2 separate regions of the Homo sapiens genome follow, and region 1 is linked to region 2. Evidence: fine-mapped expression QTL. Tissue or cell type: sigmoid colon. Region 2 holds a variant in brackets; the other region holds the start of a gene. All regions are shown on one strand. Distances are from middle to middle.

What was found. PIP is the estimated chance that this variant, and not a neighbour inherited with it, causes the effect.
Region 1: it holds the start of CCDC158, and the variant in region 2 is fine-mapped to the expression of CCDC158 in sigmoid colon (GTEx, PIP above 0.99).

The regions. Positions count from the first base shown.
Region 1 is chr4:76,417,797-76,425,948 of GRCh38, reverse strand. CCDC158 (coiled-coil domain containing 158) reads left to right here and starts at 4,808. Exons shown (of 25, transcript NM_001394954.1): 1 at 4,808-4,984.
Region 2 is chr4:76,292,269-76,300,420 of GRCh38, reverse strand. All of the region lies in intron 6 of FAM47E-STBD1 (FAM47E-STBD1 readthrough), which reads right to left. Among named protein-coding and RNA genes, the nearest start is that of STBD1, 10 kb to the left of the region's middle. The variant T/C (reference allele first, on the strand shown) is at 3,554.

The DNA.
Region 1 (8,152 bases), 130 kb before region 2:
TATTGACGTGATGTGGCAAGAAGAACAAGTTTGGACTCAGTCACAATCCATCCCACACTTCCTCTTCTCCTTCCCTGCTTCCTTTGTCCCCATGGCATTTACCACCTTCTAGTGCATTAATTTTGTCACGGTGATTATTTATGATCCGTCCCCCACCACTGAAACGTAAGTTCCATGAGGGCAGGGTTTGGGTCCGTTTTGTTCACTGATGTTCCTGATACTCAGTTGGTGCTCAATAAATATTTGTTTATTGAACTCAAGCTTTCTAATTAGATATATTTCTCTCCTTGTGTCGCTGGTGGAGAGAAGAATGTCAGAACATTAACTACATGGTCTTTTAATATTTTATGCTCTATGTACTTGCATACTAATACTATGTATTAGAGATGACTTGCCACTTATCCCCTCCACCACAATATATATTGATGACTTCTATATGTCCAGCTCTGTACTGGGCACTGGGGAAAAGTCGTTGCCCAATAAAATGTACAACAGAAAGTTTTAAACCATAGTCAGGAAAGGAAAATATCTATCCCCCTAATCCAGGCTGCTCTGTAACTCTGCTTTAACACTGTATTTAGTTTTGAAGATCTTTGGCCAAAGAAAAGTTTCAAGGTCTAGATCATAAAGGAAACACAATGGTTAAAGTAATTTCATATAATCTACACCATATGCTAAATTAAAATATGTGGTTTTTCCTAAGTACCACCTGTTTACAAAGCTCGTTGTGTTGGCTGAACCAAGACTTTTTTTGAACTTAGCAAATTGTGAATTAAATTTTAAGTGACCCTGTATATGCATTATGTATATTATGTCTGAAGTACTTTTCTGACACAATTTTAACAAAAGTTTTTGTATTAAGATAAAGTTCTATGCTTTGATTTTATAAAATCATAGGGCTTTTTCTTGTTTTTTTTTTTTCTTCAGTTAGAAAAGCCCCTTCTGATATTTCTACATCTCACATTTTGCAGATGAAAATACTAACGCTTTGTAAGTTCAAATGGCTTGCCCAAGCTAGTGCCAAAGCTCAGATCAGGCCTGGGTTCCATGTTCCTGAGTCTTAACTGCATCCTCACAAACCCCAGCCACCATTTGGATTGACATTAGGAGGGACACAGGTTCCTTGAGGGCAGAAACTGGAGCTTCTTTGCATCTCCCCAGTACCCAGCACAGGGTCTAGTGCAGAGTAAGAACCAGTGAAGGGAGACACAACAACCTTGGACCTATGCATGGACTCTTACTAAAGAGCTCTCGGTGACTTGGGCCCTAAATGACCACAACGCCCCAACCTCTGCTTGTTCATCCACTCTGCTCAGTCCTCACTAGCCTCTGGGTTTTTTCAAACACACCAACCAAATGCCTGAAAAGCTCTGTCCCACAATAACCACACAGATCCCTTCCCCCAGCCCTACAAGTCTCTTTTGAATGTCACTTTATCAATGAGGCCTTTTCAAGACCTCACTATGAAACAGCAGCCCCACACTCCCTAACCTCCTACCTCTGTCTCCACAACACGTATCCCCATCTGGCATATTTGAACTTGTCTATTTGTGCATTGCTCATCTTCCTCTACAAGAATGTAAGCACTACTAGGGTAGGGACTGTATTTGTTCCCAGCTTTCTTTTTTTTTTTTTTTTTTCGATCTTTTTTTTTTTAATTGATCATTCTTGGGTGTTTCTCGCAGAGGGGGATTTGGCAGGGTCATCGGACAATAGTGGAGGGAAGGTCAGCAGATAACCAAGTGAACAAAGAAACAAGTGAACAAAGGTCTCTGGCTTTCCTAGGCAGAGGACCCTGCGGCCTTCCGCAGTGTTTGTGTCCCTGGGTACTTGAGATTAGGGAGTGGTGGTGACTCTTAACGAGCATGCTGCCTTCAAGCATCTGTTTAACAAAGCACATCTTGCACCGCCCTTAATCCATTTAACCCTGAGTGGACACAGCACATGTTTCAGAGAGCACAGGTTTGGGGGTAAGGTCACAGTTCAACAGGATCCCAAGGCAGAAGAATTTTTCTTAGTACAGAACAAAATGAAAAGTCTCCCATGTCTACTTCTTTCCACACAGACACGGCAACCATCCGATTTCTCAATCTTTTCCCCACCTTTCCCCCCTTTCTATTCCACAAAACCACCATTGTCATCATGGCCCGTTCTCAATGAGCTGTTGGGTACACCTCCCAGACGGGGTGGTGGCCAGGCAGAGGGGCTCCTCACTTCCCAGTAGGGGCGGCCGGGCAGAGGCGCCCCTCACCTCCCGGATGGGGTGGCTGGCCGGGCGGGGGGCTGACCCCCCCACCTCCCTCCCGGATGGGGCGGCTGGCCGGGCAGAGGGGCTGACCCCCACCTCCCTCCCGGACGGGGTGGCTGCCGGGCGGAGACGCTCCTCACTTCCCAGACGGGGTGGCTGCCGGGCGGAGGGGCTCCTCACTTCTCAGATGGGGCGGCTGCCAGGCGGAGGGGCTCCTCACTTCTCAGACGGGACAGTTGCCAGGCAGAGGGTCTCCTCACTTCTCAGACGGGGCAGCTGGGCAGAGATGCTCCTCACCTCCCAGACGGGGTCGCGGCCGGGCAGAGGCGCTCCTCACACCGCAGACGGGGCGGCGGGGCAAAGGCGCTCCCCACATCTCAGACGATGAGCGGCCGGGCAGAGACGCTCCTCGCTTCCTAGATGGGATGGCGGCCGGGAAGAGGCACTCCTCACTTTCCAGACTGGGCAGCCAGGCAGAGGGGCTCCTCACATCCCAGAAGATAGGCGGCCAGGCAGAGACGCTCCTCACTTCCCAGACGGGGTGGCGGCCGGGCAGAGGCAGCACTCTCCGCACTTTGGGAGGCCAAGGCAGGCGGCTGGGAGGTGGAGGTTGTAGCGAGCCGAGATCACGCCACTGCACTCCAGCCTGGGCACCATTGAGCACTGAGTGAACCAGACACCGTCTGCAATCCCGGCACCTCCGGAGGCCGAGGCTGGCGGATCACTCGCGGTTAGGAGCTGGAGACCAGCCCGGCCAGCACAGCGAAACCCCGTCTCCACCAGAAAAATACGAAAACCAGTCAGGCGTGGCGGCGCGCGCCTGCAATGGCAGGCACTCCGCAGGCTGAGGCAGGAGAATCAGGCAGGGAGGTTGCAGAGAGCCGACATGGCAGCAGTACAGTCCAGCTTCGGCTGGGCATCAGAGGGAGACCGTGGAAAGAGAGGGAGAGGGAGACCTTGGAGAGGGAAAAGGAGGGGGAGGGGGAGGGGGAGAGGGAGAGGGAGAGGGCCCCAGCTTTATTGTCACAACCTACACATAGCATGTTGTAGGTGCCCTATAAATATGGATGGAATGAATGAATGAATGGAAAAGGACTTTGGATCCCTTTCTTGATCTTTTAATTCTTTATTTAAAAAGCTAAGAAGCTGTTTTTAATACAATATTTAAAAAATGTTGTAAAACCGCAGGACACTTCAAAATGTGATGAATTTTATAGTAAAATCAGGGGCACATAACTTTTCGTACATATATGTGGGTGTAGATAATTTCATGCTACACTAATTAACACACCTTTTAATTAAAGACGTTGAAAAGAAAAAAACCTTTTTGTGTGTGTCCAGGGTACAAGCACAAAATGAGACACCAATGGAAACCATGTATTAGGTATGGAAAATTTTTATGTCATTGAACACTCATGTTTTGATAGAAAAAAGAAAAAATTAGAAATTGCTTTTTGTCCAACCACAAGACCTAAATTATTTACCTTTCTATGTAATACTTATGGTTTCACTTCCTGTTAAAAATGCTCGATTCTATAGCTAATCCTAGATCTCTATAAGCCAATAAATGGATTAACTACAAAGATATGATAAACAATCTTTAATGGCATTTAATCTATTTTTATTAAAATTTGTAGCTACATTATTTAATGTAAGACTTACTAATATTTCTAATCAACTTATACATAAAAAGTTATTTGCTGTAGGTGTCTGCACAATGTGATTGCTAGCAGAATTAAATGCCTCAGGCTGCATCTATCAGACACTGGCCTTTCTGGATGCGTTCCATTTGATCGATAATTTGGGCAGCAAAATCTGATAAATTCTATATTAGAGATAATGACAGAGGGTAACTGTAGCACAGCGGAGGGAACAAGTCTCCAGAGGCAGAAGGGTCAGCTATGCCGAGAACACGTTTGAACTTGAACATTCGGGGACAGAGAAAACAGAGCTGCAAAATGTGAATTCTGTTAACTTGAAATGGTCAAATGGGAATGCCAGGAGTGGGAATGGGAGGGGGGGGTGAGGTGGGGCCGGGTGGGGGTGTCAGAGTAGGAGGCCCGGCGGGCAACTCCAGATTGGGCTTGACTCTTTGGCAGGTAAGAGCTCAGACTGGTGCGGGTCAGTGAGTTATCTGGGAAGACCACGGTGGGGACAGCTACGAGAGTGGCCCGAGGCGCTCGGGTGGGGGCAAGAGTAGGGCCGGAGACCAGTTAGGAGGCTGTGGGAGAAGCGGCAGAGGGCGCCGGGTGCAGGTCCGAACCCAGGGTAGTTTCTGGGGCAGGGCTCCAGGATTTGACTCCGGGCTGGGTACACCCCCACTCCTTAGGGCGCCCGGGCGGTGGTGGGGACTTCGACGCTCGGATGCCCCAGCGACGGCGTCCGGCGGGCGGAGTCGCAGGCGCGGGAGGGGTCCCCGCCGGGCAGCTGCCGAGCACCCCCCTCCTCCCCTCCCCCAACTACGAAGCCTCGCAGAGCGTCCTAACCGTCACCCACGCGGCTCGCGCGGACTGGGCAGCGCCCCGAGCGCCACAGCCGCGAGGAGTGACGGGCGCGGGCAGCTTCCGGCGCCGCAGCCGAGGAGGAGGAGCCGCCCCGCAGCCTCCGCGGGGCCTAGGGGCGAAGAGTGGGGAGCCGCCCCGTCCCAGCCGCCAGGTCGACGTAGGTGGGGCCGCTGCGCCCGCCGGCGCCCCGCGGAGATGTGGCCGGTGTCTTAGGATTAGGTGTTGGTTGCAGGTACAAGCGGGGCGCGGCCCGGGAGACGAGGATGGTGGGGTGGGAGTGGGGTTCTTCTGAGGACCCGGAGCGACTCGTGTTCATTTCTGGAATCTTCCGGTGCCTCGTGTTTGTTCTGCACATGGAAGATGCCCAATAAATTGTTTCTTTACTGGAATGAGCTGCTGTTGTTTTAGGGGATTGCAAGACCCCTGGGGACGGTGGCGCTGAAACCTGGACCTTGAAGAACACAGGGGCCTGCGCAAACTGATTTGATTTGTGGGGAAGAGAATCACCGAGTAACCTGCCCCAACGTGACTGCTGACTCTGTGTCTACCGCGCTGCCGCGAACAGGGGGAGGAGATGGGGAAGACTTGGTGGTAGAGAGGACAGCCTCGCATCCAAGACGGAATGGTGTTAAATGCCGGCGCAAGGGCCCTTTCAGCTTGAGCCCTGTCTTTAAACCACATGTGGGGGTCAGAGCTTTCCCTCATTATCAGCATCAATCAGCAACACAATGAGTTCTGGAAAGTCTCCATCCTTTTCCACAGCACTCTGCTCCAGGCCCCACTCAGGCTGCTCCAGGTTTTGTTTGTGCCTCATGCTGAACTCCAACGTCAGGGGAAAGTAGAAGTGAGGTCGGCTGTTGCCCAGGTTTTTTGACTGGCAACCAGTTCTTGCTGCTTCTCTCAGCAGGAGATTAAGGCGTTGTGGCCGGGTATGGCGGGGGCGTGTGGGGAAAGGACCAGGGCTTCCACATATCCCAGAGACATGCTAGGTAGGACTGTTTCTCTGTGCGGAAGCTCATCAGGTAAGGGTGCAGGAGTGCTGAGAGAGATGTGGTCCTCCTATCTCTGTACTGCGCTCATTGCTTTTAATCTTAGTGCGGTTATCTTACTTGTGTTGTGGGTGAAATGGTTTCCATGCCATAGAGTTAATATTATACTCCCAAAACAAATTGAGGACAGCAATTTATTTGTATGTATGCAAAGCCCTTACTGTTGTTGTGCATTTACAATGAGGACTTAGTTTTATCTAGTATGTTATGAGTGAGCCACTTTAGACCTCCACCATTTATTAAACAGGGCCTCTTGTGATCCACCCGTCCCCCAGCTAGATGGCCCCAAATTATATGGTAGGCTGAGCAGTGGCCACTCAAATATGTCAGGTCCTAATCCCTGAAACCTGTAAATGTTACCTTATAAGGGAAAAGTGCCTTTGCATACGTGATTAAGTAGCTTGAAATGGAGAGATTATCGTGAATTATCTAGGTGGGTCCTAAATGCAAACGCAAAGGTCCTAAGAGAGAGAGAGAAGCAGATTTGATATAGGCCGAAGAGAAGGCAATGTGACCACAGAGGCAGATATTGGAGTGATGTGGCCACAAGTCACCAAATGCCTGGCAACCAGCAGAGCTAGAAGAGGCAAGGAACTGATTCTCTTGCAGAGCCTCCAGAGGGAGGGAGGGAGCCCTGCCAACACCATGCTTTCTTCCCCATGAGACTGATTTTGGATTCCTGGCCTCCAGAATTATGAAAGAATAAGTTGCTATTGTTTTAAGCTACCGAGTTTTGATAATTTGTTATGGAAACTGTAGGGAACTAATACATATGAGCGTGCTCATAAATCACATACATGCTGTACTGATGAATAGTTTACAGGTCTTCAGCTGGGGCAATAGTGGGGTACAGTAGTGGAGATCACTGTATATTTATCTGAATCCTGTAAATCCTAAAGAAAGGATTTGAATAGGGAATTTGGTAAGAAAAGAAATTTAAGTGGTGCATATGAAGGAGGTAGTCTGGCATTTAAAGCAATTTTTTAAGAGTATTCCTATTAATATATCACTATTTGCTCTGGCTAAAAAGAATAAAGGTAAAAAGTGGCAAAGGCTTTGTCCTTACCTTAGCTGAATCATTATTGATTATCCATTGTGTGTATATCAAGTAAGAGTTGCAGACACCTGGGGATTGAGGTCCAGGCCTGGGGAAAAGAGGGAATGCAGAAGTGCTTCCATGTATTAAAATATGGCTAAAAGCAACCGCTAGTCATCTGGAATTAAGATACTTTGGAGTTTTCAGGATACAGGAAAATTCAGTGTTCAAGTTTAATGATTCACTTCTGGGACCCAGGCAGCTAATTTACACTTCCCACTTTCCTTGATATGGTTTGGCTGTATCCCCACCCAAATCTCATCTTGGATTGTAGCTCCCACAATTCCCGTGTGTTGCGGGAGGGACCCAGTGGAAGGTAATTGAATCATGGGGGCAGGTCTTTCCTGTGCTGTTCTCGTGATAGTGAATAAGCCTCACAAGATCTGATGGTTTTATAAAGGGGAGCTCCCCCTGCACAAGCTCTCTCTTGCCTGCCGCCACATAAGACTTCCCTTGCTCTTCCTCCATGATCGTGAGGCCTCCCCAGCCATGTGAAACTGTGAGTCCATTAAACCTCTTTTTTCTTTATAAATTACCCAGTCTTGGGAATGTCTTTATCAGCAGCATGAAAACAGACTAATACACTCCCCACATCTGCTTTCTTTTCAAACTGCTTTATAAGGTATAATTTACATACCATAAAATTCACCTGTTTTAAGTGGACAGTCCAGTGATTTTTAATAAACTTACTGAATTGTACAATCAGCACACAATTCAGTTTTAGAACATTTTCATCATCCAAAAATGATGCCTTGTACCCTTCTGTAGTCAATCCCCATTCCCAACCCCAGCACCATCTGCTTTTAATGACTGGCCTACTTCAGAGTTGGGTTTTAGTCCCTTTGTTGGACTGCTCCAATGGCTTTATAGCTAGCCCCAGCTTCTCCTAGTGTATTCTCTACTCAGCCGCTGGAGGATCATATGCCCTTGATTAAAATCCTCCAGTGCTTTGCGTTGCGTTTAGAATAAGCCCCAAAGTCTTCAGTATGTGGCCTTTTCAAGGCCCCATGAGCTTTACCTCCGCCAACCTCACTGACATCTTCTCAGGATAGTGTAGGAAAGGAAGTGATAAGCACAGTGTTCCTTTTGGCATGACACATAGTTGGCCTCCATTAGAAGCCCTCTCATCCCCACTTAGCTACCCTGCAGCCTCATTAGCCTTCTTCACTGGGAGTCAGTGAACACTGAGCTCTTCTCATTTTTGGGCCTTTGTGATGGCATTTCTTTTAAGAAGTTATCCCTGGCCACTGTGAGG
Region 2 (8,152 bases):
AAGGAGAATGAATAAATAAACAAAGAGGTCCAGGGTGGGGTCTGGATTCTGCTTTCCTAACAAGCTGCCAGTTGATACTGGTCTGTTGGCCTCACTGTAAGTAGCAAAGAGACTAAGGAGTAAGGTGAACTCAAACCTTGCAGGCTTAAAGAGGAAGTGAGGAAGAATGGAGGGAAATATGAGGGAGGAAGGAAGAGGAGAACAGGCAAGTTTTGAAGGGTGGAGTCAGGGAGAGTCCAGGGCAGGGGCAGCGGGCCCGGCACACAGAAAAGGGAAGAGCCCATGGGTGCCATTGGCAATCTCTGCTTCCTCCAGTCAGACCTGCCGGACCACGCCATGCACTCCAGCTCCTCACACAATTAGATACAATTCAAATAATTGTAATCATGAGTGAAAGACTCCCAATTCCCACCAGGTGCACACTGTTACTAGAGAGAATGTAAGCCAAATTTCTCCTCAGAGAGATCCTCCCCAACCAAAGTTGGCCCTTGCCCTCACTTCCGCAGGCCTGCCCCCTGCTGTTCTCCATCCCTGCACCCCATTAATTGCCCATGTCACTCTCCATATTATCTTCTTTGATTAAAGGTGTGTTTCCCTCACTGGATTGTAAGCTCACAAGGGCAGGGAATTTATAGTTTTCTCCCAGTGACCTATAGGGTGCCTAGTGTCCTACACGGTAGAGGCTCAAAATATGTATTTATTGAGTGAATGAATAAATGAATATCAAGAATGGTCAAGCACTAGCATGTACCACCAAAATATAGGCTGTAAATGTCCAAGAGATTTTTTTAAAAGCATTGACAGTTATCTTCTTGGGAGAGAATGAGGTAGATTAGACCAGGACAGATCTAGCAAAGCCACCATGAGGGCAAAGTTTGGGGTGTCCCTTTATCTCGTTTCTTGTCTTCTTCCTCTTTTTGGTATTATTCTTTTTTTTTTTTTTTTTGTGAGACAAAGTCTCACTCTGTTGCCCACACTGGAGTGCGGTTGGCACAATCTCGGCTCACTGCAACCTCCGCCTTCTGGGTTCAAGTGATTCTCCTGCTTCAGCCTCCTGAGTAGCTGGGATTACAGGCATGTGCCACCACACCTGGCTAATTTTTGTATTTTTAGTAGAGACGGGGTTTCACCATGTTGGTCAGGCTGGTCTCAAACTCCTGACCTTGTGACCCGCCCGCCTCAGCCTCCCAAAGTGCTGGGATTACAGGTGTGAGCCACTGCACCTGGCCTCAGTATTATTCTTTAACTGCTTTCTGATTCCACCCATCCACCCAACCACGGAACTGTAAATATTGTTATCTGTGAACATTTGTCAAAAAGAAAGTTGATGTGTCACCAGTACCTTACAGTGAACTTGTTTGATATTTTAAAATCAGTTTAGAGGGAGGACAAACTAAAATAATGCATTTTTTTATTGATATGTCATATTTGTACATTTTTATGGGGTACATGTGGTATTTGTTACATGCACAGAATGTGTAATGATCAAGTCAGGGTATTTAGAGTATCCATCATTCTATGTGTTGGGAACATTTCAAGTCCTCTCTTCTAGGTATTTTGAAATATATAGTACTTTGTTACTCTGGCGTCAAATATTACAATTAATTCCTTCTATCTAACTGTCTGTATTAACCAACCAACCTCTCTCTTTATTCCTCCCCCACCCCCTACACACCCTTCCCTGCCTCTGGTAACTATCATTTTGCCCTCTACCTCCACGAGGTCAACTTTTTTAGCTCCCAGATATGAATGAGAACATGCAATATTTGTCTTCCTGTGCTTGGCTTATTTCACGTAATATAATATCCTCCAGTTTCATCTATGTTGTTGCAAATGACAAGATTTCATTCTATAGCCAACTTAGATTTCATTATGTATTTGTAAACTATTCATCCAACAAGGGACAAATATCCAAAATATACAAGTAACTCAACAGCAAAAGAACTAATAATCCCATTAAAAAGTGGGCAAATAATGCATTTCTAATGTAAGAATTTTATACCCTGCACACCTACCTTGGAGGGTGATGGGGGAAAGCAGGGCTTCCCCACCTCTTCTAACCAGAATGTGTAATACTGCCTATTCTGCCCACAGTGAAAGCAGGCCCTGTGAGCACACCATTGCTCATGCCCCAGGAGAAAATTGAGCTAAGTCACAAAGAAATGCAATAGACCAAATTCATTTTTAAATGTTCATTTTTAAAAATGTTCACCAATGATAAAAATAAATTCAAATATAAACAATATATTTTAATAGGGAAAAAATTCAACCTTTTTGGAGGCAACTTAGCACTCTATATCCAAAAACCTTAAAGAACAAGACAGAATAAACAACTATGTGAGTGTGTGTGTGTGTGTGTGTGTGTGTGTGTGTGTGTAGCTGCATGTACATATATCCTTTGACATAGCAATTCAACTTCTGGGAATTTTGGGTGAGTAGAGGCCAGAGGTGATACTAAATATTCTACAAAGCACAGAACAGTCCCTCACAACAAAGAATAATAAGAAAAATTCGATCCAAAACATCAATATTGCCTGGGCTGAGAAAATCTGCACCAGAGCATGTGATCTCAGGGAAAGCAAAGAGGGAACACAATGCCTTTTACAGTCTAGTTTTGGAATCACACATCGCTACTTCTGCTACATTCTATTCTTTAGAAATAAGCCACTAAGCACAGCCCACACTCAAGAAAAGCAGAATCAAGCTTCATCTTTTGAAGGAAAGAGTATCACAGAATTTGTGAACATATTTTAAGACAAGACCAATCTGTCCTCTAGCCACAAATTACTTACATTCTTTTCATATGTAAAATATACTTACCCCCACAGCCCCACCCTTACAAAATCCTCCCATAACCCCTTTACAGCATCAGTTTGGAATCCAGAATGTTAGAATCTGAATCAGGCCCAGGTACAGATGAAACTGCTTAGATGTACTTCCTAAGTACAATTATTCTAATGCATTTCCTTTCAATCTGAAGACAGAAAGGTATATGCCTATCCCTCCCACCCCCACCCTCTGTAACATCACCCAACATATAATAGTAGAACAGACACAATATAATCACCATATACAATCATATTCCAAAAATAGGAGAAAAATAGAGGCATACAGGAGTCACTGCTCCATGGCAATTCTGTAAAGCAGCCAAGGAAATTGTAGAAGGTCCTCAATTAGAACTTTGTTCAACTAGGAATAATTCTGCATGGCCTTTGTTTCCACTTTCTTGGTTATGTCCTCTGAGTCATCTGTTCTATAATGGAAGCACATATGTGTAGCTGAGAAGTTCTCTCAGTCTGCTTTCTGCCAGTAGAACTATGGAGATCCAGAGGCCTCTTTTCATTTCATACTGTCTTTGTCCCTTTTAGTCCAAGCTGGCAGTTTTTATTCCAATACAATTCTTTGAAAAACTTTACAGATTTCCTGTGACTCTTATTGGGTCCATGCCATTTTTCAAAAGCCAAATCTACAAATCAATTCAAGATAAGCCCTTCTCTACCATGGGCTTCTGGTGAAGAACAACATCTTCAGCTTCTTAGAAGCTTTATTTGTT[T/C]GATCAAAAGAAACTGTAGCACACCTAAGAAAATTTTAGGGAGCCTTTTGTCTAGTTGAACAGTACGCTGAGGCAACACCTTTTATCTTTCTGAGGTCTTAACAAAGGATTTAACAGTTACATCCTTACATCCTTGGAGTCTTCTTTAGACCATGTTTTCCTGGCAATGTCCTGGATTTTGTCTTTGCCCCATATCATTCCTTAATTTAAACATTATCTGCTATCCAAGAGGCTAGACATTTCGAAACCATAAAATCCTGGTTCCTCTTTTTAAGCTGTCCTGCTTTAGCTTATCTATTTCTTCTTGCATTTTGCTGTAAGCAGCAAATGAAAACCAGGCAGTATCTTCAACATTCTGTATGAAAATCTCCTTCGTTAGATCATCCAGCTCATCAGCTGCCTTTTCTACATTCCATGTGGGCTAAACTTTTTGCTATTTCATAACAAGGAGACTGTTTCTCCCACTTTCCAATAACATTACCTCATTTTCCTACAAGCTGTCACCTCCTCAAAGGCTTCTACTAACAGTGTTTTTAAGGCCCTTGAAGCTTTTACTAACAGTCTTCTCAAAATTTTCCAGCTTCCACCCCACTACCCAGTTCTTCTCCCTCCCACACTTTAGGTTCTTGTTATAGCAGCACTCCACTTCCAGGTAACAAAATCTATATTAGTTACCTATTACTGCTTAACAAATAAATCTTAAGCTTAATGGCTTAAAACAACAAACATTATAGTGGTTTTTGTGATTCAAGAATTCAAGAGCAACTTTGTGGTTCTGGCTCAGGACCTCCCGTAAGACTACAGTCAGGATGTCAGCAGGGGTTGCAGTCTCATCTGAAGACTTACTAGGGACTGGAGGATCCACTTCCTAGATGGCTTGCCCCATGGCTGCTAGAAGAAGGCTTTAGTTCCTTGCTATGTGGGCCTCTCCATAGACAACTTTAGTGTCCTCACAACATGGCAGCTAGACACTCCCAGAGCAGATGATCCAAGTGAGAACAAGAAGGAAGCCACAATTTCACCTGATGTGATTGGGACTCAGAAATCAGGCATCATCACCTTTCCCACATTGTCTTCATTAGAAGCAAGTCGCTAAGTACAGCCCACTAACTACAGTCACTAACTACACTTGAGTGGAGGGAATTAGACACCACATTTTGAAAAAGTATCAAATAATTTGTGGACTTTTTTTTTTTTTTTTGAAACAGAGTCTTGCTCTGTCGCCCAGGCTGGAGTGCAGTGGTGTTATCTCGGCTCACTGCAAGCTCTGCCTCCTGGGTTCAGGACATTCTCCTGCCTCAGCCTCCCGAGTAGCTGGGACTACAGTTGCCTGCCACCATGCCCAGCTAATTTTTTGTATTTTTTAGTAGAGATGGAGTTTCACCGTGTTAGCCAGGATGGTCTTGATCGCCTGACCTCATGATCCACCCGCCTTTGGCACACCAAAGTGCTGGGATTACAGGTGTGAGCCACCAGCCTGGCCAATTTGTGGACATATTTTAAAACAAACACAAATCCCCAAATCAGGGGCTCTTTGGAATTTTCTAAAGAAATATGTCTTGAAACTGTTGAACTGGGAGAGAGAGAGATAATTGACTGTTTAGTTTGCTAAGTTAAGACATCATTTGAATTCACAGGTTTTTAGGATACCTTATGTGAAGCTAGAACATTGTTTGGAAAAAGTGAGACCCTGAATCCTGAAATGGGAACATATGGGAAGATACGGTGGGCTCCAAGTACCCTAAACTCCCAACCCTATGAAAATATGCTACTCAGATCATCTGCTGCAGAGAGCATCATTGGCTGGTGGACCAAATTGCTGCCTCCCTGGATCCTCCACCCTCACACTGAGGCCATGCTTCTCATGGGCTACCCCTAACCAATGACTGAGCATGCCAGAAGCACCAAGGTAGTCCCATTCTGGCAAGAAGTGAAACTCCTCCTCTAGGCAACTTCAACTTGAGGACTTCCTGCTGGACTGGCGAAACCTTTATTTGAATTGTGCTACAGTCCAAGATTCTTCTTACACCAATCTTCTTTCCTTCCCTTATTCCTTCCACAGATATCAGACAGGCATCACAGTCTAAAGCTCTCTCTATCTTTTCCCATTCCTTCCTTCAGTAAAGCTCAAGAACATCTATTCCCATCTTGCCATTGCTTCTTGGCACACCTGAATTAATGCAGCCTTCCTCGTCAGAGAAAATCTCCCTTCATGATGAGGCTTTTTCCATCTTTCATGAAGACTCTGTAATGTTATTCTTTGTGGGAGTAACCTTACTGGAGGTAGGGGAAAACAATTCTCTTCATTCTTTGCTCCTAACATCCCTCATTGCCTTGAATTCTATAGTCAATAAGGTGCTAGAGACAGGTTGTACCAACTCACAAAGGTCAACTGACAAATTTTCAAGAATTTAGTGAGCTGATTGCTAAACACAACCATTATTAAAACAAATTATATATACTTACAGTTAAATAAATGATGTGAAAAACAAAGATAATTACAAACTCATCACTTCCTAGTTGACAGCTTTTTATTATTATCTATGCTGCTCAGATTATTTATATGTATTATAACTGGGTGTTGGAAATACTCTATAATGGTGTGTCTTTGAATTTTGGAGACCAGATTTAGACATGCTGTTTCAGCTAGTTTTTTTAATAATCTGAGAGGTTGCCAATTTTGAGTGCAGCCTGAAGCAAGAGTATGCTTTCTCACTGGTCCAGGAAGCTCTGTCTTCTGATCCAGTGGATCCAATGTTATTGAAATGCCTGTGGCAGACAGGGCTGCTGAATGGAGCTTTGGAACATCCAGCACAGGCTCTGAGAGTTTTGCAGCCAAGCCACGGATTCTGTGGCATGTAACTTTTCTCCTTTTGAGAAACAGATTTTGGCTTGTTGCTGAGCACTGGTAAATACAGCAGCCTAATCTCATGGCTAGCACTCATCATAAGCTGGGGACTATCTGATTCACCACGCCATAAAGTCAGCTAACATTTAGTGTGTGTGCACAGTGTGCCAAGCTCTGCTCTAAGTACTTTACTTGCAACATTTCCTTTAATCCTCACCACATTTCTGGGAAATAGTACTGTTATTGTAATCATCCCTATTTTAGATGAGAAAATTGAAGCAGAGAGAGGATAAAAGCAATTTGACCATAGTCATATATCTAATAAGTGGCAGGACTTGGTTAGAACACAGGCCCCCTGGCTTCAAAGTACACATATTAAATTACCAAATTGTATTGCTTCTTATGATCAAGTGAAAGTTTCCTACATAAGATTGGGCTTGAGCAGAAATTGAAGACACAACAAATTGCATGGTGTTCCCACTCCTACCACATTACCATTTTTTCCTCAGCCTACACCTCTGACTTCATGGTATGTTCTCTAAGTCCAACTGACTAGACAGCAACCAGCACAATATGACAGCACCAGCCACAAGTAGACTACAGCAACATTATAGGCCAACTTGAGGGTGACCCTGAAGATCAACAAAGAGGAATCTTCCAGAAGGCAGAATTTTAAGCATTTTATCTTGCTGACCACTTTGTCTGAAAGGAGAAATGGTATGAGGCACAGATATCACCAGTTAATGGTCATTAGCTGACGGTGTAGCTCAGCAGCCAAGACATGGAAGGATCAAGAATGCAAGTCTGGTGACAAAGATGTTCAGAGGAAGAGGTATCTATGGGATCTCTGAGAATGAATCCAGAGTATGAGGATATTTGGTTCTTTGTGAATGCCACCCAAAGGCCCCCACTGGAGAGGAAGTGCTCAATAGTCAAGAGAAGAGGTTGACCTGGCTCCTGCATGCCAACTCTCTCCTTTCTGCAGGCACTCCAGTGTTGCCCAATGAGCGAAGTAGGCATAGTAGCAGAATCACAGGCTACACGGGGGTTTAGCAACTTGGATTTCCCTCATCAAACCTGATCTGGCCACTGCTTCTGTTAAATATTTATTTGTCCAGGAAATAAAACTAAAGTCCCTGATGTGAATTAGGTTTGAATGGAACAAAGCCAGGAACAATGTGCCTGGGGAAAGAAGTGGATTCCCTCCAGACTACCACTTCCCGTAGCCTCTGCTGCTCAGCACCTGAAAGCCAGACTGGCTTGCAGAGGATCAGCTCTCCCCTTGGTGCTCCCTTGGACTTCCAAACATGTGGGCACTTTAATGAGTTGAAACATTAAGAGAGTTTGGGAAATGCAGCCATTAGTTTTCCAGCCTCTACAGTAGGAAGGCAAGCTAGAAGGAGGTCATAATGGTCGTTGAATGAGTGGGTTCAAAGAATGTCCCAGACCTCTTCCATTATCATGAAAGGGGCAGTAATTTATCTTTACTGGAATAGTAACTTATTCTGGATTGGGATTTGCTGACCCTGCCTAACAAATTTCTGCCCACACCAACATTCATTATTTATTCTGCACCAGCAACCAATATATGCTGTTTTTCCCATATTCAGCATACATGGGTGTAGCATCAGGAGGAGCACCTCCTTCAGAACCACTTGCAAAACTGTTACTTCTTAGCCCCATGAACTGGGCTCTGGTGATTTAAAAGCTTGAGACAAGGTGTCTATCAGTAGAAAAAAAATAATAGTTCC